4 separate regions of the Homo sapiens genome follow, and all the other regions are reported to be linked to region 2. The links are microRNA targets in miRTarBase. Many come from high-throughput screens and were not tested one by one. Region 2 holds a microRNA gene; each other region holds the end of a gene's coding sequence.
What was found. The annotated mature microRNA hsa-miR-1976 reads CCUCCUGCCCUCCUUGCUGU and lies in region 2 at 1,575-1,594, shown strand. An mRNA with a match to its seed (bases 2 to 7 or 8) in the 3' UTR can be bound and repressed. Matches are read on the target gene's strand: a 7mer-m8 pairs with bases 2 to 8, a 7mer-A1 pairs with bases 2 to 7 and ends in A, and an 8mer does both.

Region 1 (5,075 bases), not on the chromosome of region 2:
CAGTTATTTATTTACATAATCATTCATACAGAAAATATTGATGGAACTCATTAAGCACTGGGCACCATTTCAGAATCCCAGCAAACGTGAAGTGATGTTTTTGGTTCTCAAATACCTAACTAGCAGTCTAATGGTATTAGTTAACAGGGTTACTTTTACAACGTGACAGGTGATAATAGGAATTTGTACAACATTTTAGATGTAGACACAGAAGAGGCACTTAATGTGGAAGAGTTTTGGAAACAGATAAGAGTGAGGCAGGCATGAGAAGAAAAACAATGCTGGCATGGGTACACAGGAGTAGCACGGGTTGTTCAGTAAAGCTACAGAAGAGTTGCTAACGATGACAACGGGTTGATGGCGAAGGCCTTGCATATGCTGCTCAAGAACTTGGAATATTATTCTCAGGGCAATCACATACAATTGATAGTTTTAAGCAAGGAAATGACAGGGTAGTCTTGGTATAATCACGTTTTTTTTAAGAGAAAAATGGATTGGTGATCATATTGAAGGCAGGAAGTGAGGTCAGTTAGGAGGCTGTGGCAAATAGCCAGGCAAAAGAGAAAGATGGCAGTGATTATGGGGCATAGCAGTGATTTTGACAGAAAATCTTAAAATGAAATAGAGTCATTCCTCGGTACCCTTGAGGGATTGGTTCTAGAATTCCCCTGCAGATATAAAAATCCTTGCATACTTAAATCCCGTCATCCCTGCAGAACCCAAGGAGGTGAAAAGTCAGCCCTCCTTGTCTGAGGGTTTTGCATCTTGCAATACTCTATTTTGGATCCAGTTTGATGGTGGATGAGGAACCTGTGGATACGGAAGGCTAACTGTATTTACTGAAAAAAAATCTGAGTATAAGTGGACTGAGCAGTTCAACCCCATGTTGTTAAAGGTTCAATCGCAAATTCTAATTAAGATATAATTTTTTTCAGAAATTCATAATAATAAAGACTTAGCATTGATAAAAATCTTAGGATCTCTGTTTTAATGAATTGAGGCCAAATACAGTCTCACAATCAATAGAAGGGTGAAAAGTACATGCATTAATTATTGTATTTATAGCACACCTATCCTGTAATTGATTGAAAATTCACTGATTTAAAAAAATATTTTTGGACTGGACAGCTAGGTTGGTTTTCATATACATAGCCAAGTTTTCATCCTGCTGAAGTCACAGAAAACAATGAGATAGGAAGCTCCTGAGAGACCATTTAGTTCAATTCTTTCATTAACGATAAGAAAACTGAGAACCCAAGATTAAACCCTTTGCATGAAGGGATACACCTCAATAACGGCAATGCTGAGACTGGAATCCAGTTGCCTGACTTCTAGGGCAGGGCTTTTTTCACTACACTCCAACAACTTTCCAAGAGAGGCATCAAAATAAATTAATGGGATGTGGATGACTATCAAAAAGATGAATTTTTAAAAGTTCCTGAAAACTATAAAGAACATTTTAAAAAGCCAAGCACCTGCTTTATTATTATAGGTTGGTCGTTTTTCCAGATGAACTGACAAGAAAATGTATGCCAACATCAGCAACTACTCTTCACATACTCACTTTCCAAAAATAATTTTGGACTCTAGTCTAGCTTCATGGTACAGGTATCCAAGTGCCTGTGATTTATATTGTTACTTTCTTATTTTAAAAATTGGAAACAAATTTCAGTTTATTTAGGATTAGCAAGAAGAGACTATAAAAAAGAAGAAGTATGGTGGGTGTGTGAACAGGCTATTTTATACTATTCATCAAATGATAGAACATTTATATGGAACCTCTTTAAGTGCTGGAAAACAAAGAATTCAACTACTAATGTAATAATTTTTAAAAATACATTCCCAAATAAGCAATAACTAATGTATTTATTATCTATTTTGAGTTTTTAATAAGGTAAAAATAAGTATGAAAGATTCCATATTTACTGTAATAAAAGCAATACACACATTTGTAGGCTTTTAGAAAATTTATTATGAATTCCGAGAAGTCTGCTCATCATATACCTCCCCCAGCCCCAAATAAAACAAACAACATGTTTGTACATAAAGCCTGGATTTACTTGGTACAAAATTTGAGTCTTTGAAAAAAATAGTTAATGGAAAATCTCAATAAAAATTCATTTTGAAAGTAACCAGTACTGTTCAGAAATAAGGAAGTCATGTTACTTGAGAAGTCAAACAGTTTTATTACAGAACTATGTGTATATATTTTGGGTTTAAAACTTGCCAATAGCTGTTTGAAAGGATAGCTCATAATTTATTCAAATAGATATTTTATTAATCAAATGTTTTTGGTTTATCAACATAACCAAATGTATAAAAAATGTTTTTAAATACAAGACATAACTATAAAGTCATGAGGCTGATTGACCTTTTAAACTAACATAATAAAATCTATATGGTCAAAATGAGTGGTGATGCTTTAAGGTAATGATTATGCGTCCCATCTAAGGATGCTGCAATGGCCTAGGGCAGTTTTGAAATGTCTCTTTGCAACTACCTTCAAAAGGATATGAGCTTCATAATTTAATCATTCATTTGATTTGGTCCCCAATATTATTCCAGTTCAATCATCATTTATATTCACCAGTCCTGGCGATTTTGAAAAATCTTATTAATCTTATTTGTCACTTATTAGCGTATTCAAAGGAATGTCAATTGAGGTTCTGATGGTAATTCTGAAATTTAAGCATTTACACACTTTTAAGATGTGTAAATTTTAGTAACTACTCACATTATAGACTTGTTTTTGGTATATGTCTATCATTTTGAAATAATGAGATTTTTCTTTTTTCTTTTTTTCTTTTTTTCTTTTTTTTTTTGAGACAGACTCTTGCTCTGTTGCCAGGCGGGAGTGCAGTGGCATGATTTTGGCTCACTGCAACCTCTGCCTCCCAGGTTCAAGCAATTCTCCTGCCTCAGCCTCCCAGGTAGCTGGGACTACAGGTGCATGCCACCATGCCCAACTAATTTTTTTGTATTTTTAGTAGAGACGGGGTATCACCATGTTGGCCAGGATGGTCTTGATCTCCTGACCTCATGATCCACCCGCCTTGGCCTCCCAAAGTGCTGGGATTACAGGGGTGAGCCACCATGCCCGGCCCAGAAATAATGAGATTTTTCAAAGCAACAGTGATTCATCACACTGAAATAGGACTCTACAGTTCAAAATGACAAGAATAACTTTATCCTGTGTTACATACCAATATTAGAGAAATCTTAAAAGTTTGTAGCTGTTAGTTTTTAGTTTATGCATGTAGTTCAGTAGCCCAAGTTGACAACTCCCCTGTCTCTCTACATGAATCACTGTAGTTGAAATTGTACTAAAGTATCAGAAGTAACATTTACTGTAAAATGTTAAATAGCACCAATATTACTTGAAAGTAAAGTGAGACATTAATAGGAATGCTGACACAGATTTAATTTCTAACTACTAGAGAGAAAGCATCTCCTAGACAAAATACTATTTAGATATGAATTATTTTAAGATCACAGCCAGAAAAATGTCATAAAACATTTTAGATTTTGCTTGGAAAAGTTAGAAAAGAAAGCTTTGTGTATCGCTCTTTTATCTTTTATTTCCAAAGAAGATGTACAAATGCTTACATAATCAGAACAGTGCAATCTTACCAATGAAGTTTACCTTGTGGGAGCTACATTTACTTATTTCATATATTAGTTCAACAACATAAATATAATAAAAATGCTTTTAAGCAATCTGATTAGAGCAACATTTATATTAACTACAAAATATACAGTAAAATGAAACATCTTGTTAAATAGGCCTGTAGGAAAACAATATTTTAAAGGAATACATTTTCATGAATCTACTTTCATATTTATTTGTTTTATTGTATCTTATAGTTACTATAATCGTTGTGTGCTTTTGTTACTGCAATTTCCAGGATCATTGTATATTCTCAGTATGCCAGTGACTATATATGTAAAGGTAATTTAAAAAGTATTACTCCCAGAGTAAAAACAGACAAACAAATAAGAAATCTCATTTTTAATGGGAAGTTGTGCATAAAACTATTGTAGTATTTTTATAGAAATGTCCCTTAATCATTATAAGTTCATCATTATAAAATGTATACTATTGTACTAAAGCAAAACTGTCTGCCTTTAAATCTAAGTGGTGTCAACTTACTGTATAATTCTGGTTACAAAGTTAGATATGAAATCTTTGGCTATTAATTAGAAAAGCATTATTTGAAAAGACCTGTCAATAAACATTTCTAAATGTGGTTGCTCATCTTAATAGTTTTCTTAATTAGAACAGCTAGGAAATGAACAGAACAGTGGTGCTTTTATGTTATAATAACAAAGAAGTATTACAGTATCCCAATCTCCAGACCTGGGGTCCAAGTATTCAATCCTGGCTCAGTTGCAGGCTGACAGAAGAGAAGCATCGTCCTACGCTCGTACACAATGGAGCAATGATAACATCTGTCACACTCTTCCATATTGTCTGCACTGAAGGCAGAACCATTAGGCAGGTCTTTACAAAAGGCATTAAAATCCTGGAAGGAAGGAAGAGAGATGTGTGAGGATTGTTGCTGTTACCAAATAAGGTCTGTCTTGTACATGTATGAAAAGATAAAATACTGACCCATTTACTTAAATTTGGTTGAGAGTTTGAAACAAATAAATGAACAATGATCACTGATAATGATTTGGGTTTTTTGTCCCCCTGACTCTCATTTTGAAATGTAGTCCCCAGTGTTGGAGGTGGGGCCGAGTGGGGATAATTGGATCACAGCGGGTAGATCCCTCATGAATGTCTTAGTGCCTGCCACCCTCTTGGTAACGTGAGTTCTCACTCAGTTAGTTTGCTTGAGATCTGATTAACTAAAAGAGTCTGGGACCTCCACATTCTCTCTCTTGCTCCCTTTCTTGCCATGTGACGTGCCTGCTCCTCCTTCTCCTTCCACTATAAGTGGAAGCTTCCTGAGGTCCTTGCCTAAAGTAGATGCTGGCACTGTGCTTCCTGTACAGCCCGCAGAACTGTGAGCAAAAATAAACCTCTTTTCTTTATAAATAACCTAGTCTCAGGTATTCCTTCATAGTAATGC
Region 2 (5,073 bases):
TATTCTGTATACACTGTTCTGTACCTTGCTTTTTTCAAGATAGTATATCTTGGAGCTCACTCCATGTCAGAACACGGAGAAACTCCTTGTTCCAGTTCATGGCTGCAAAGCACTCCATTATGCAGGGGAGAGGGCTGATTCCAGCCTTCTACTCTTGGACCCTAGGCCTGTTTCCCACCCCTTCTATTTCTGAATGGTGCCACAATGAGTGGCTTGCGTATTAGTCATTTCATACTTCAAATCCTTTGTATGATGAGAAGGCTATATGGCCTGGGGTTTCCAAGGGTCCTCCCAGGGTGGCTCTTCAGGACCAGGAAGCTGCTGACTGCCCAGTGCCCCAGCTCTTAAGGAAGAGGAGGTCCCTGCTGAAGGCCCCTCCTGTCTTTTGCAGGTGATGTTCACGGAGGAGGATGTGAAGTTTTACCTGGCTGAGCTGGCTCTGGGCCTGGATCACCTGCACAGCCTGGGTATCATTTACAGAGACCTCAAGCCTGAGAAGTGAGTGAAGCCTCCAGCCCCACCCCAGCCTCCCCAGGGGAGGCCTCTTCTAGGACAGGGCCATCCTGAGGTGGGTGGGCATGGCTTTCTCCAGAAACGTCTCCCTCTCTTGGGCAATCTGAGGGATGGGTGAGTGGGGTGGGTGGTAGTGCCAGCTGCCCAGTCACTAATGCTACCATTACCAAGGGCCAGGTACTTTGCATGCAGGTAATGTTGCCCGTCTTTTTTTGCTAATCTAGTGTGACATTTGAGATGCCACCTTTAGAGGTCTTTCCTTGATAAAGCCCTATAGAATTTTCCCTAATATCTAACTACCCTCAAATGATAACTAAGGAGCCAGGGGCAGGTGGTGAGTTGGAATAAGATCTGGCTTTAGTGTTAGGCAGCCCTGTATTCAAATCCTGTCTCCACCTACTAGCTAGACTTACTAGCTCAATGACTGTAGAGCTACTTAACTGCCCTGAGCCTTAGTTTTCCCATTAGCAAAACGGGGCCCTAATAGTACTTGCCTCACACAGTTGCTTCAAGGATTAGCAAAAAAGATAGGCAACACCCCTGCGTGGTACTGCTACCACCCTGCAACACCCGCCCAGTCATCAGAGAGAATTGGGTGGAGCACCTCCTCTGGGCTGAACCCAACTCCCACAGCCCTGTGGTAACACCATCACCCACACGGCCACAGCTGAGGGGCCCTGACCACTATTTCTCTATTACAGCATCCTTCTGGATGAGGAGGGCCACATCAAACTCACTGGTGAGTGGAGGGCGCCTGCCCCCTCGGGACCCAGGGGAGGACAGGACAAGGTCATGATAGGTCTCGGCTGAGTGCTGGGGGCTCATTCTTCCCGAGAAGCCGTGCCAGTTACTTGGAAGTGGTCAAAAACTCAGGCCTCAGACTTGGAACACCCTCAGCTGGAATCCCAGCCCCTCATTGTGTAACGTTGAGCAAGTCACCTGACCTCTCTGGGCCTTAGCTTCCTCCTGAGTGTCATGGGGGTGATGCCTTCTGGCCTCTGGGCACGGGGGTTGGGTGTGCAAAGGGTGGCAGCAAGGAAGGCAGGGGTCCTAAGGTGTGTCCTCCTGCCCTCCTTGCTGTAGACTTTGGCCTGAGCAAAGAGGCCATTGACCACGAGAAGAAGGCCTATTCTTTCTGCGGGACAGTGGAGTACATGGCCCCTGAGGTCGTCAACCGCCAGGGCCACTCCCATAGTGCGGACTGGTGGTCCTATGGGGTGTTGATGGTGAGTGCCCAGACAGGGGTAAAGGATCCAGCCCAAGCCTCTGGCCTCAGTCTCCCTATCTGTACAGTGAGGGGGTTGATCATTTCTAGGGCTCTCCCCGTCTCCTCTCACAGCCAAGCTGGCCTCACCCTATATGCACCTGCAGTTTTCTTCCTTGGAAGGATCCCAGGCTTGACCCCACCTGGGACGCGCCTAACCCAGTGCTGGCCTTCTCCCCAGCCTCGCGCCCCCACCGCTGCTCCTGGTGGTCTGGTTGGCAGAGGCAAGAGGGACGGGCATAATTCTTGCTCCAGGCTGACTTGGATGTATCAGCAAGAATCCTGGGACTGGGGCAGAGGGGTCTGACTGGGAGGAGGCGGGAGGTGTGTCGGAGACAGGGATCAGAGCCTGAATAGATCCTTGTCCTCTGCAGTTTGAGATGCTGACGGGCTCCCTGCCCTTCCAGGGGAAGGACCGGAAGGAGACCATGACACTGATTCTGAAGTAAGCCCCAGCCCTGCCCTGATAACAATGGACTCCTCCAAGCCCCAGCCCCAGTTTGGGGGTCAGAATATTATTACCCTGTCCCTGCCTCAGCTACCCTCTCTAATGAGACTCTCCTCTGGGTTAAACATTATACCTTCCAGAGCCCCTCTTTCATCCCTGGGGGCCTGTGGGTAGGATCCCTGAAGCCTTTGGGAAGTGAATTAGTGGATGGCTTGTCTAGACTGAGCTGGGAACTAGATCTGGACAGGGGCCGGGGGAGATGGGGCCTCTGGGGCAGGGCTCAGCCTTGATGAGTCCCGGGGGCTGTTTCAGGGCGAAGCTAGGCATGCCCCAGTTTCTGAGCACTGAAGCCCAGAGCCTCTTGCGGGCCCTGTTCAAGCGGAATCCTGCCAACCGGCTCGGTAAGCAGCCCCAGCTCAGGGGAGGGGATGTGGCGATGGGGAGCCGGGTACAGCTGCAGCCTAGGCCACAGGGCCACATCTGGGCTGAAAGGGGCCGTTGTCCTTTGTGTGGGCAGACAATGCCGCGGGCCACCCTGCTTTCTGGCTCCATGTGTGGTGTTGTGGAGGGGGGAGTTGACCTGTGTGTAGGGGGAAGGCAGGAACTGAGTCATCCCTACTCCCTCTGGGGACAAGGACAGAGGCCCCCACACAGCTTCTCCGCCAAGGCTGCTGGCACAAGAGAAATAGCATGAGCTCAGGAGTCAGAAGGCATAGGTCCCAATCCCGGCTCTGTGTCAGGTCCCCACTGCCTGGCACAAAACAGTCCCTCTATAAATATTTGTTAAACGAATGAGGCCACTTATGAACTAAGTGACCCCAGGCAGGTGACTTCACCTCTCTGCACCGCAGGTTCCTCGTCTCAATGGGAGATGATGATCCCAAGCTTGCTTCAGGGCTCTGTTGATGAAATGAGGTTGTGTGAACATGCCGGCATGTAGTAGGTGTCCAGTGTGTGCTGGCTTCCCTGGCTCCTGGGTTCATCTGGTCCATGACCAGCTGTGTAAGGTCCAGTCAAGGCCCCTGGGGTCGAATGGAGTAACAGCCTGTCCTATGGTTGAAAAGGTCAATGGGATAAGAGGAACAGAGATGAGGCTTGCCTTGGAATGAGGTGGGGCTCTCTGTAGGTCTCAGAACAAGCTCAGCTTCTGTTCTAACTGTGTGGCCTTGGAGAAGTTGCCTAAAGTCTCTGGGCCTTCCTCCTCCCACTGGTACATTGGAATTTCTTCATCAGAAGCTCCAGAAAGTGGAAAATGCTGAGTAGGTGACAGGCCTTAGGGTGATGGCTGGGTAGATTTGAGGCTGAGTGAGCCCATTTTCCCCTCTGCTCCAGCAGCTGGTCCCAGAGCCCTGTGAGGCTGCTTGGTGGGCAGGGTAATATCTGGGACTTGTGCCAGCCAGGGACAGACCCTTCATTTGGGCTCTTTCAGGCTCCGGCCCTGATGGGGCAGAGGAAATCAAGCGGCATGTCTTCTACTCCACCATTGACTGGAATGTGAGTGTGTCCACCCACACCAGGGCTCTGGCCAGGGCTCAGCCATCTTGGCCACAGGAAGGGTGGTGGGAGGGGAGCCTCTGCCAGCGAGGGCCCCAGACGCAGGAGCAGAGGGTCACAGCCTGCCCTTGAAGACAAGGGCTGGCCTCCTGAGGGCAAGCAATTCCGAGAGCTGGGCAATATGGCCTATGTTCCAAGCCCAGCACCTCCTCCTGCATGGGGCTCCTGGTGGGCTGTTGAGGATGCCATGGTGACCAGAGTGCCCACCCCACTGTGCAGAAGCTATACCGTCGTGAGATCAAGCCACCCTTCAAGCCAGCAGTGGCTCAGCCTGATGACACCTTCTACTTTGACACCGAGTTCACGTCCCGCACACCCAAGGGTGCGTCCCTTATCTGTTTTGTCTGTCTTGGGCTGGTACAGGAGGGAAGCCGGGAGTCGGTGGCAGCTTGGGGGGCAGAGATAGTCAGGGACACTGACAGGCCGAGGTATGCGGGTGGGCAGGCGGGTGAGTTTCTGGCTCCGTGGGACTGACTTTGTCCCTGTCTCACTCCGCCCGACTCTCTCACTATGGGGCTCTGTGGGTCTCTTTGTGTCTGGTGAGAGAGTGGGAGTGGGGATGTGTGGGTGGTGAAGGCCACAGTAGAAAAGCCAGGACCCCTGCCCGGGGCACCTTCCAGCCCACTGGGAAGACCAAACACATCAGGCTTACCATCACGTCAGGGAGAAAGAATCTGACCCAGCCACACTGTGTGGTGGCTGAGCAGAGGTGACAGTGCCCATAGGTCAGGGACAGGCATGGGAATCAGCTTTGGCTGCCCTGACTGCCCGGCCTCCGTGTACTTATCTGGAACAAGGGCACAGCCACAAACCCACTCATTCCCTGGGGTTGCTACAAGAAGCCAGTGAGGGAGCTTCTGGGAAGGAACCTGGTGAATCCTAACTTTTTGGCCAGATATTGACAGTGGGTGTGGGGTGGAATGTTCTGGGAAACCTCCTATAAGGGCATGTTTTAGGAGAGGGTGTGCTTTTCTTCTCTCCTCTCCTCCCCTCCCCTCTCCTCCCCTCCCCTCCCCTCCCCTCCCCTCCCCTTCCCTCTCCTTCCCTTCCCTCTCCTCTCCTCTTTTCAAGATGGAGTCTCGCTCTGTTGCCCAGGCTGGAATGCAATGGCGTGATCTCAGCTTACTGCAACCTCCACCTCCTGGGTTCAAGAGATTCTCCTGCCTCAGCCTCCCGAGTAGCTGGGATTACAGGCATGTGTCAGCACGCCTGGCTAATTTTTGTATTTTTAGTAGAGACGGGGTTTCACCATGTTGGCCAGGCTGGTCTCGAACTCCTGACCTCAGGTGATCCA
Region 3 (5,075 bases), not on the chromosome of region 2:
TTTAAAAAACTCACAAGATTTCATAGACCACAGGATGTCATTCAGAAAATGAAAATGTGTCATTTTATCTTTTCAAACTGTCAAATAAAGGCAGCTAGTTAACAGAGAACCACTTAGCTCGTGTTAACTGATGTAGAAAGCTGCCTCGCCATGGATGTAACGCTGTGGCTGTCACTGGTGTGCCGAGCGTTTTCACGAGGCACTCCCCTCTCATTTTCTGTCATTTCACTCTAGAGTCACTGCCAATTCCCTTCTCAATGGAGAGCTTCTGGTGTTCTGTCCATTGTCACTATAACCAGAATTGCTGGGTGACTGCGGACTCCCCCCCACTCATAAGCCCTAGTTCAGATCAGAAAAGCAAAAATGTTTTTCAAGTGAAATTCAACCTTGAGCATTTTGGAAAAACAAACAGTTCATTTCAGTGAGTCATCTCCCTTCCCATTGGCAGGGTTGTCCAGAACAGTAGATTGTGCCACCAGCTGCACCTGAGGCCACAGGGCTTCCCATTTGTGTCTTGCTGGCTTCAGTCTTGCTCATCATATCCATGGTTGACTTTTGCAGGTGTGAAAGCTGTGGAGCCGTTTTCCATTCTGAATGCAAAGAAAAGTCTGTCCCCTGCCCGAGGTGTGTTCGCCGAGAGCTGCAGAAGAAGCAGAAGTCTTTCTGGCAGAGACTGAACATGGACGAGAGTCTAGAGGAGGCTTGCACCATGTTCGAGCTGTCCTACCAGAACACCTGACTCCAGCCGACCCGAAGGCCAGGGATTCACCAATCAACAATCCATCAGCCCCAGAGCGGCCTCCTAACTAGCCAGTTAGACCCCTTTGGAAGAAGAGTATGTATCCTCTTCAACTAGATATAGATATATATATTTATTTATATATACGCAAATACCTATACGTCCTGTACGTATGCTCTGTGTACATCATTGTCCAGACGATCCACAGAACCTCTGTGGCTCGAGAAACTACCAATAGCTGGATTACACTTAGCCAAGAATTTCAGCTGCTTGCTCCCAGACAAAACGTGGTATACACAATGCTTTATAGTTCAGACTTTTTTTTTCTCTCTGTCTCTCGGTACATTTTATTACCCAAGACACAAAAGGAAGCATTTCCTGCACAAAACAGTGCTTTAGGTTATTTTTGTGTTATTTATTTTTAGCCTTCACAGAGGCTGAGGTAACTGAGGCAGGCACCCATCATCATCTGTTTCATAAGAAAACCTTCAAAACACAAGAGACTGCTGGGTCCTTCCAGGACCTGGTGTCCGTGGCGCTCCCGCCTCAGTTCCTCCTGTGGAGGCGGGGAATCACGTAAGCAGAGCCGATGGCTGGAAACAGGAGCCAAGCCCCCTCTGACAGAAAGCATACACCCCTCATTTATGAGGAGGGCTGGTTCTGGTTTTGAAGTTAATCTCAGAAGTTTTTTTCCTGAGAAGAGAAGAAACCTCTGCGACCAATAACTGCGTGTTGTCGGTCTGTTTTTCGGTACTAATCCCATCACCCACCTAATGATGTGACGCTCCACCGTGTTTTCCAGGCTGTACACATGGCTTTCTTAACAGTTTTCAACGGGTGCCCATGGTTGATATTTATGATTTTTTTCATGATGCTGGCCGGAGGAAATGTCCTGGGGTGGTTGTTAAAGACATCGTCGTGTAGACTGGTAGATAAGGCTATCTAGTAAGTATATTCCCAAAGAGGGTCGTTTTAGTTTCTTTTCTCAGAATCCTGTGGAGGCAGTTCCTACCTATTCATTTTAAGTGCTTTATTTCTCGTTGTTCTTCCTGCACTTTCATTTCGACCTTTGTCAATGTGACCATTCTTGCTTTCTCATTTTTTTGTTTAAAAAATCAGAGTAATGTGGAACTTCAAAATACCAACTTTGGACTATTAAGAAAATACAAACTTACAAGTATAATTAATGAATTAGATCTAATATTATTTAAATAAATATATATATATACACACACATATATAATTGCCACCTTGAAGTAAAACAAAGAGTGCTAAAATAAATAATAGGAGTAAGAAAGAGATCTGCTTTGCTATTTGGCAGGTAGTGTTCTCCAGCTGCAGTGCCCTTGGAAGAGCACGTGGCAGTCACTGTGACCAAAACGGCAGGTAGGACAGCCCTGGGACCCTGACAGCTCCCATTCCTTCCCCTTAACTCTCCCTAGAGCAAGAAAAATATGTTTATAATGGAACAGTTCTCAGTAGACTTTATGAGAAGATTCTGTAGCTTTCGCGCTGAGCAGATGCCTTCTATGTCTTCATGGTTTAGTAGTTTTGCTGCTATTAGGATCAGTGGCTCACAACATACTTGGTACATTCAACCCCATTGCTCCTTTCCCCCACACGCCGCTTCCCCAAGACCCCAACTCATGATACTTCCATCCATCTAGAGATGTGACATTTCAGACTGACTTTTGTGCAGTTAGATGTAAGCATTTTACCTCTCAACCCACACCAGTTCCTTTGGCCCCAGGCCACACATTTCACCTTAATAGCTCAACACCATACATGCATTTATTTTCTGACTATACAGTAGCCGCAACCAAGGCTTGAAAACTTGTTAAAAGGCCAGGGCCCTATTCATGAGACGCCTGACGGTGCCTTTTACCCTTAGAAAAGCAGGTTGACTTTTCCCCCACTCTAGTTAAAGAGAATGTTGCACACAAAAGAAAAAGGGTGGAAAATCTCAAACACTTGGCAACAGGCAAACAAATTTGATCATCTCCTTTCCTCCTCCTCTTGGTAAAATACAGTATTTATATTTTCCAGCCTCAGAGAAGATAGCAGAACATGATCTTTCACAAGAGAATTATAGACCTGCTTATTATAAAACAGATGTGCTCCCATGGCAAAGTGCCTTCTCCCTCCGCCCCCAGCTCCCTGTCACTGTAGCTTACTTTTGCCTTCGCTGTAATTAATGTATCCGTGATTCCAACTGTCAGCGAGGCCATTCCTAGCACACTGCATTTGGAGACCTGAAGTGCAGTGCCATCTCCTCCCCTTGTAACATGTTTGCCCTGCATACAGAATTTCCTCTCCTAGCTCACAGGCACCCAGGGTCATACCTGCCGAGAGTCAAGGGCGAAATTCTGGATCCCCGTTCAAAACATCTTTGTTTTCACCAGTCCCCATTTAGAGGGCCCTGCTAAATACGAGCAGTCCCTGTGAACTCCTAAGGAGGACTTTCCACCCACATCATTTTCTGCTTATTTTCAAAAGGGAAACAAAAAATCGATGTGTTATCACCATCAGCTACCCAGAGCTGGGTCCATGTCCAGCACTCCTGTTTCCTCTCCTTTTCGTACCACCCTGACAGCTTGGTCGGTGCCAGCCACAGGCCTATGACATTCTCTGCCACCACCACCAAAATCTGATAGGACAGAGTGGAGCCAGCTTAGGAGTTGGGTCTGCCATGAAAATTCAAAATTGCTGTTTTCAGCCCAGAATACCTTGGCGCACATGAACGCCCTTACTGTTTTCAACTTTAACAAATTACTTGGTGCACTGTTAGGTAATTGTTCCACTGCTTAGAAACTGTCGAAACAAAAGCAAATCTGTGGATTACCACCTCTTTCAGACCAAACTAATACCTGCTTTTCCTCGTGTTCCATTTTTCATCCCATATTAAATATCTTGCACATAAAACATATGAAAAAATGGCCAATTAATCTCCTGGAGCTGGCAACTGACTCCGGGGAACCGCTTTTTGCTGAAAGGCTCATTCCCTAGTGTATCACTTGAGGAAATCCCTCCTAAAAGTGCCAGAAACTCATGTGTGAGATCGTCCAACCCTGGTGAAATGTTGGCATCTAACCCCGCAGTAAAGAAGCCAGTTCCTAAAATAGACCTCATTTTGCACCGCGGCAGGAAGGCCACAAAGTACTTAAAAAGCCGTCAACTGGAATGGGGGTAGTGTTCTTTCCAGGCCCGCTTTTTCCAAAGTTAAAAGCCTCTTTATATGAAAACCATGTAAACTCTCAGCAGCCCCCTTTGCTTCACTGCCTTTTCTAGGGAGTGCATTAGAGTCATTTTTACGTCTGTAGTGCTAAAGGGTCACCTAGTTAGGAGCTTTAACATCGGATTCGCTGAGAGGGTCATCGGTTTTTGATTCTTCTAGAGTAGGCCTCCACCAAGAAGGGAATACGTCTAATACTTGGGATCTGTGGTTTGCAACACAAGTGGTATCCCTCAGACTCCTGAAAAGGGACTATGCCGTGACTTCCTTCCGGCTGCAGTGAGATCCGAGGTGTTTACACCACCCTAGTTGCCGAATGCAGCCTTTGCTCAGCTAGAGTGTGTCCTCTGACGGAGCCTGGCCTCTGTTTTTGTCTCTGTGTGTTGTGTGTACACACTGAACGTGGACATCGGATAGTTCTTTTCTGTGCCTCCTCAGAGAGGCTTGGCTTCCAAACCTGGGAGTTTGTTCTCTACCCATTGGCTAGAAAAGGCCGTCCATAAATTAGTATATCCAGGTGGGACTAGCACGATGCCACGCACACTGAACATTTTCTGCAGAGGGGCGTTAGCAGTGGAAGTAGAGACACATTCTGGTCCTCCTTTAGAGTCAAGCCAATGCTGTTGCTCGTGTATTTGTGCACAATTATTCATCTCCGTTGATCTGACACACTCTCTTGAAATCACTAGATTATGAAACAGATCTTCACCTCCTGATTCCAATACTGCCTGGTTTCAACACAGGGGTTGTTTTATTTTTTTACTTCTCCTAGTAAATAGAGATGTGTATAATTTTTGCCCATTTTATTTCTTGAGTTGTCTGCACCACTTCTTTTCTTACTCTGAAATAATGTGAAAACGTGAAGTTGGAGCAAGACCTTGAAAGAGCCTCCCTCCTTTGCGTGACCTGAATCGGTAGCGGCACTCTCTGTTTCCCCTGCCTCCGTGTCACTTGTTAGTGATGGGCATTAGGAGCTTCATATGTTGCACACCTTGTATCACTCTTCCGACCCTGAGTCAGGTAGAGCTGTCTGCTCGAGGTCGAATCCAGTGATGGGTGACTAAGCTCTGCTCGGTTAATGTAAACAGACAAGTGTTGATTTCT
Region 4 (5,075 bases), not on the chromosome of region 2:
AAATAATGGAAAAACTCACAAGACGTGATTTTCAGTGCTCCAGTTTCAGAGATGATTGGGAATGTAATCGGCAGTTTAAGAAAGAACTCGGCTCTCAGGGGGGACATTTCAATCAATTGGTATTCACTCATGAAGATCTGCCCACTTTGAGTCACCATCCATCCTTCACATTACAGCAAATCATTAACAGTAAAAAGAAATTCTGTGCATCTAAAGAATATAGGAAAACCTTTAGACATGGCTCACAGTTTGCTACACATGAGATAATTCATACCATTGAGAAGCCTTATGAATGTAAGGAATGTGGAAAGTCCTTTAGACATCCCTCAAGACTCACTCATCATCAGAAAATTCATACTGGCAAGAAACCCTTTGAATGTAAGGAATGTGGAAAAACCTTTATTTGTGGCTCAGACCTTACTCGACATCACAGAATTCACACTGGTGAGAAACCCTATGAATGTAAGGAATGTGGGAAAGCCTTTAGTAGTGGTTCAAACTTCACTCGACATCAGAGAATTCACACAGGTGAGAAGCCTTATGAATGCAAAGAATGCGGGAAGGCCTTTAGTAGTGGCTCAAACTTTACTCAACATCAGAGAATTCATACTGGGGAAAAACCCTATGAATGTAAGGAATGTGGCAATGCCTTTAGTCAGAGCTCACAACTTATTAAACATCAAAGAATCCATACAGGTGAGAAACCTTACGAATGTAAGGAATGTGAAAAGGCTTTTCGTTCTGGCTCAGACCTTACTAGACATCAGAGAATTCATACTGGGGAGAAACCCTATGAATGTAAGATATGTGGGAAGGCTTATTCTCAGAGTTCACAGCTTATTAGTCATCATAGAATTCATACTAGTGAGAAACCCTATGAATATAGGGAATGTGGAAAGAACTTTAATTATGACCCACAACTTATTCAGCATCAAAATTTGTACTGGTGATGAAACAGAATATATGAAATGTGTAGGGAGGCTTTTAATTATGGCTCAAAACAGAATTTATCTTGTTAATAATTCCTCTAGATAGAATAATGTAGAAACATTTTATTTGTGGACTACAGCTTATTCAGCCTGGGAAAAATAATGTTGGAGAAATACTCTATGAATAGAATATACTTTGGAAGCCCTTAACTAAACGCTTACTTCTCTTGACATCAGATAATTCAGTCTAGCAATATGATAGATAATTCAGTCTGTCATACTGAAAATGACAGCACTTTTAACACCTTTCTAACCTTCTTAACGTCAGAGAATTTTTGTAGAAATGTAGTCCTGTGATTGTCATTTTTTCCCCTAATTTCTCTAATTGTTACATTCTTAGTATTTTAATCCATATTAAATTTATATGGCTATAAATTTCATCTGTTTACATCCTGATTTGTATACTATTTTAAAAATACCTTTAGTACCTGGGAGAAGTGACCTCTTTATTTTTGAAGATGGCTTATTCTTTTTGTTCTTTATAACATTAAGGCTTTCTTATTGTAAAAATGTTCATGAACGACATTTTACTCAATAGAGATTCTTCATTATCTTCATGGTGTTTTGTTGTGTTACTGTAATATCACTTATGAAATCCTATTGGTGGATATCGTAGTCTCCTCTAGATATTTTGCCATAATACATGCCAAAATACAAGTCCCTGCTGGACATTCTCCCTAAGCACATCTTTGTATCATATCTTTTAATTGCAGAAGTAATGTGTGAATATATTTTCCTTATAAAAGATGCAAACATTACAAAAAGGCAAATGTACCCTTTGACCATATCCCAAAGGATAGTCTTTATCAGTTCATTATTTATTGCTGATCATTTTTCTGTTCATATATACATGCGTGTCTCAGTAAAAATTATAAAATGGGGGATAATTATAATACCTACCTCATAATGCTTTGTGAGGATTAAATGAATTAAGATCGATAAAGTGCTTAGAATTGTGCCTGACATGATAAATACATACTCACTGAATGTTAGTCATCGTTATTATATTCATCATCATCAGTATTATTATTTGTAGAAAGGCTTTTTAACTTCTGCAGAACTTAGTCACCATTAGGCAGGGTGTTTGACTGAAGAAAGACCCTTTGAAGGTAACAAGTTAAGAAAATTTCCCATCATCATGTACTTACTATTGAACATGAAATAATCCTAGGTGTTGGGGGGGAAAGTACTGTGAATAATGTGTGTGAAGGACTTTATTCCGACTAATACTCTTTTTGTCGCATTATATACCCAGTAAAAAAGAAAAGAGAACATAAGCAAAATATTGGTGCACTAATGAGGAAAAAAAGTATGAAAAGAGAAACAGCATCATATTTAAAAAATGGACAGAGATAGAAACATAGTTACAGATTTAAAAGGTTCTGTTGAATATTATGCTTTTTTCTAATATGTTTGAAAATTTAAACAAAATGGTTTTTAAGGAAAATATACATCAATATTGACTCCAAGAAAATTAGGACTCTTCAAAGACTCTCATAAACACAGAGAACAGGGAAAAATTAGCATGTGATCAGTTAACTATTACTAATGAAGCACCAAATCCAGTTTCTTTCTAAGGAAAACTTTATCAAATGTTCAAGGAACTATTTCAGTTATATAGAAGTACACATCTTGGCTCACGCCTGTAATCCCAGCACTTTGGGAGGCTGAGATGGAAGGATCATTTGAGGCCAGGAGCTTGAGACCAGCCTGGCCAACATGTTGAAACCCCATTTTTACTCAAAAATACAAAACTTAGCCAGGCATGGTGGCACATGCCTGTAATCCCAGCTACTGGGGAGGCTGAGGCAGGAGAATCACTTGAATGCAGGAGGTGGAGGTTGCAGTGAGCCAAGATCACGCCATGGCACTTCAGCCTGAGCGACAGAATGAGACTATTAAAAAAAAAAAAAAAAAGTCCACAGTGTAGCTTTGTTTGGGGTTAAGTTAGTGTTTTGAAATGGGCCTTCCCTGTGCTCAAAACATGCTCAGCAAGCAGCTCCCCACGCTGGACAGATCGCATATGTGGAAGGATGAAGTTTATGTCTGTAGAACTGTTATTTTATGCCCCACTTCCTTTTTTCTTAGATCCTGTGTAGACGGGTCTCTCTGAACATTGTGTTACTTTACTTTACTGGCATAAGGAAGTAAAATATTTCATAATAAATTTGAGAAAAGTAGAGTGAGCAAAAATACCTGCAAATGAGAGAATTACTAAAAATGGACTGTTGTAATGTTTTGCGTTATCAAAATGAAAACTGCCAAATGAGATTTTGTTTACTTTCTTTTCTTGTGTGCTTATGTCTTTTATAAAGTTCTTCATCTAAAATTATAGAGATAGTGCATTTGCACCCAAATTAATGAAACAATACCATTAAAGAGAAAGAAAAGGGGCTGGGCACAGTGGCTTACGCCTGTAATCCCAGTGCTTTGGGAGGCCAAGGCAGGGGGCAGCCTGGCCAATATAGTGAAACCCCATCTCTACTAAAAATACAAAAATTAGCTGGGCGTGGTGGCATGTGCCTGTAGTCCCAGCTGCTCGGAAGGCTGAGGCAGGAGAATCGCTTGAACCCGGGAGGCGGAGGTTGCAGTGAGCTGAGATCCTGACTGCACTCCAGCCTGCATGACAGAGTCTCAAAAAATCTGTCTCAAAAAAAAAAAAAAAAAAGAAAGAAAAAATGATTATCTTTGCCCTTCTCCGTTCCTCATTCCCTCCCCTCTGTCAATTTTCTTCTGAATAATATTTAAAGGTTGTGTATATTACCCATATATTTCTTCATGCTAAAACATTAACACACAATTATTTTATTATGTTTTTACAGAAAAATGGATAACTATACATTTCCCTGAAATTTGCTTTTTTACATTCAACTGTACATTTTGGATTTTCCTTCAATAGATGATGATCTAACAGTCTTTCTGATGGTTACAGTATGTTCCACAGTGTTATTTACCAATGCCTTTTCAACCACTTTCCCAATTGTGATATTATGGATTGTTTGCGCTTTTTTGCCATCTAAAAGTAATGCTGCAACAAACACTTTGTATTCTTGTCTGTTTTATTTCTATAAAATAAGCTTCCCAAGTCATTTCCAGTGTTTTTGCTTTGTTTTGTTTTGAGACAGAGTTTCACTCTTGTTTCCCAGGCTGGAGTGCAATGGCGCAATCTTGGCTTACTGCAATCTCCGCCTCCCGGGTTCAAGAGATTCTCCTGCCTCAGCCTCCCAAGTAGCTGGGGTTACAGGTATATGCCACTACGCCTGGAAAATTTTGTATTTTTAGTAGAGACGGCATTTTTCCATGTTGGTCAGGCTGGTCTCGAACTCCTGACCTCAGGTGATCCACCCTCCTCGGCCTCCCAAAGTGCTGGCATTATAGGCATGAGCCACCGCACCCGGCGTCATTTCCAGTGTTTTCTATGTTTCCTAGGAAGGTTTTGCTTCTGGAAGATTTCAGAGGGCAAGAGAATAAAGGAGTGGAGTGCAGTTTTTCATATATGTGATTCTGTGAGTGTGTATACACAGAGATTTAATATTTTAATACATCAGGAATTGATTATACGATCTAATGCAGGATGTCAGACTTGTTTCTATCCAGGAATAAAACCAGTTATGCCAGAAGTAACTATTATTCACCTTTCTCCTACTGAATTAAAATACTATCAGTTGTATATTAAATGCTCACATCTATTTCTGTTCTCCATATTCTAGCAATCCTTGACACTTTTCAATAGCTTTTATTACTTGGAAATAAAGATGTATGTATATATTATTAATATATAGTTTATTATTTGGAAATAAAGATGTTTCTTCATGAGAATTTTTGACTCATTTATTTTCCAATGAAAACCCCATTAGGATTATATTTTGAATTTCATTCAGTTTAAATGCAGAGTATCCTACATGAATAAACAATTGACACTGAATGGAATTCATTAACACATCTTGAGGTTTCTTTTATAACTCTTCATCCTCTTGACTCTCTAATATCTAATAATAACACCATCTACTGTGATGTCTCACAATACTTAAAATATGCTAGTAATACCTGAAAATTTATTAGAGTTCTGCTTATAAGGTGATAGAT

Region 1: the mRNA of CAV2 is a reported target of hsa-miR-1976. Seed matches in the 3' UTR shown: 7mer-A1 at 3,028-3,034 and 8mer at 2,910-2,917.
Region 3: the mRNA of PLEKHM3 is a reported target of hsa-miR-1976. The part of its 3' UTR that is shown has no 7-base or 8-base seed match.
Region 4: miRTarBase lists ZNF566 as a target of hsa-miR-1976. Seed matches in the 3' UTR shown: 8mer at 2,798-2,805, 7mer-m8 at 2,817-2,823 and 8mer at 3,542-3,549.

What each region holds. Positions count from the first base shown.
Region 1 is chr7:116,505,419-116,510,493 of GRCh38, reverse strand. CAV2 (caveolin 2) reads right to left here. Exons shown (of 3, transcript NM_001233.5): 3 at 1,953-4,523. The coding sequence ends at 4,373. Among named protein-coding and RNA genes, the nearest start is that of CAV2, 8.2 kb to the right of the region's middle.
Region 2 is chr1:26,553,000-26,558,072 of GRCh38, forward strand. MIR1976 (microRNA 1976) reads left to right here and starts at 1,543; the gene lies at 1,543-1,594. It overlaps RPS6KA1 (ribosomal protein S6 kinase A1), which reads left to right. Exons shown (of 22, transcript NM_002953.4): 7 at 392-498; 8 at 1,215-1,252; 9 at 1,597-1,739; 10 at 2,152-2,222; 11 at 2,538-2,626; 12 at 3,655-3,719; 13 at 3,999-4,101.
Region 3 is chr2:207,823,983-207,829,057 of GRCh38, reverse strand. PLEKHM3 (pleckstrin homology domain containing M3) reads left to right here. Exons shown (of 8, transcript NM_001080475.3): 8 at 562-5,075. The coding sequence ends at 739. Among named protein-coding and RNA genes, the nearest start is that of FZD5, 57 kb to the right of the region's middle.
Region 4 is chr19:36,444,852-36,449,926 of GRCh38, reverse strand. ZNF566 (zinc finger protein 566) reads left to right here. Exons shown (of 5, transcript NM_001145344.1): 5 at 1-4,808. The coding sequence ends at 950. Among named protein-coding and RNA genes, the nearest start is that of ZFP82, 29 kb to the right of the region's middle. RefSeq lists an enhancer at 1-876.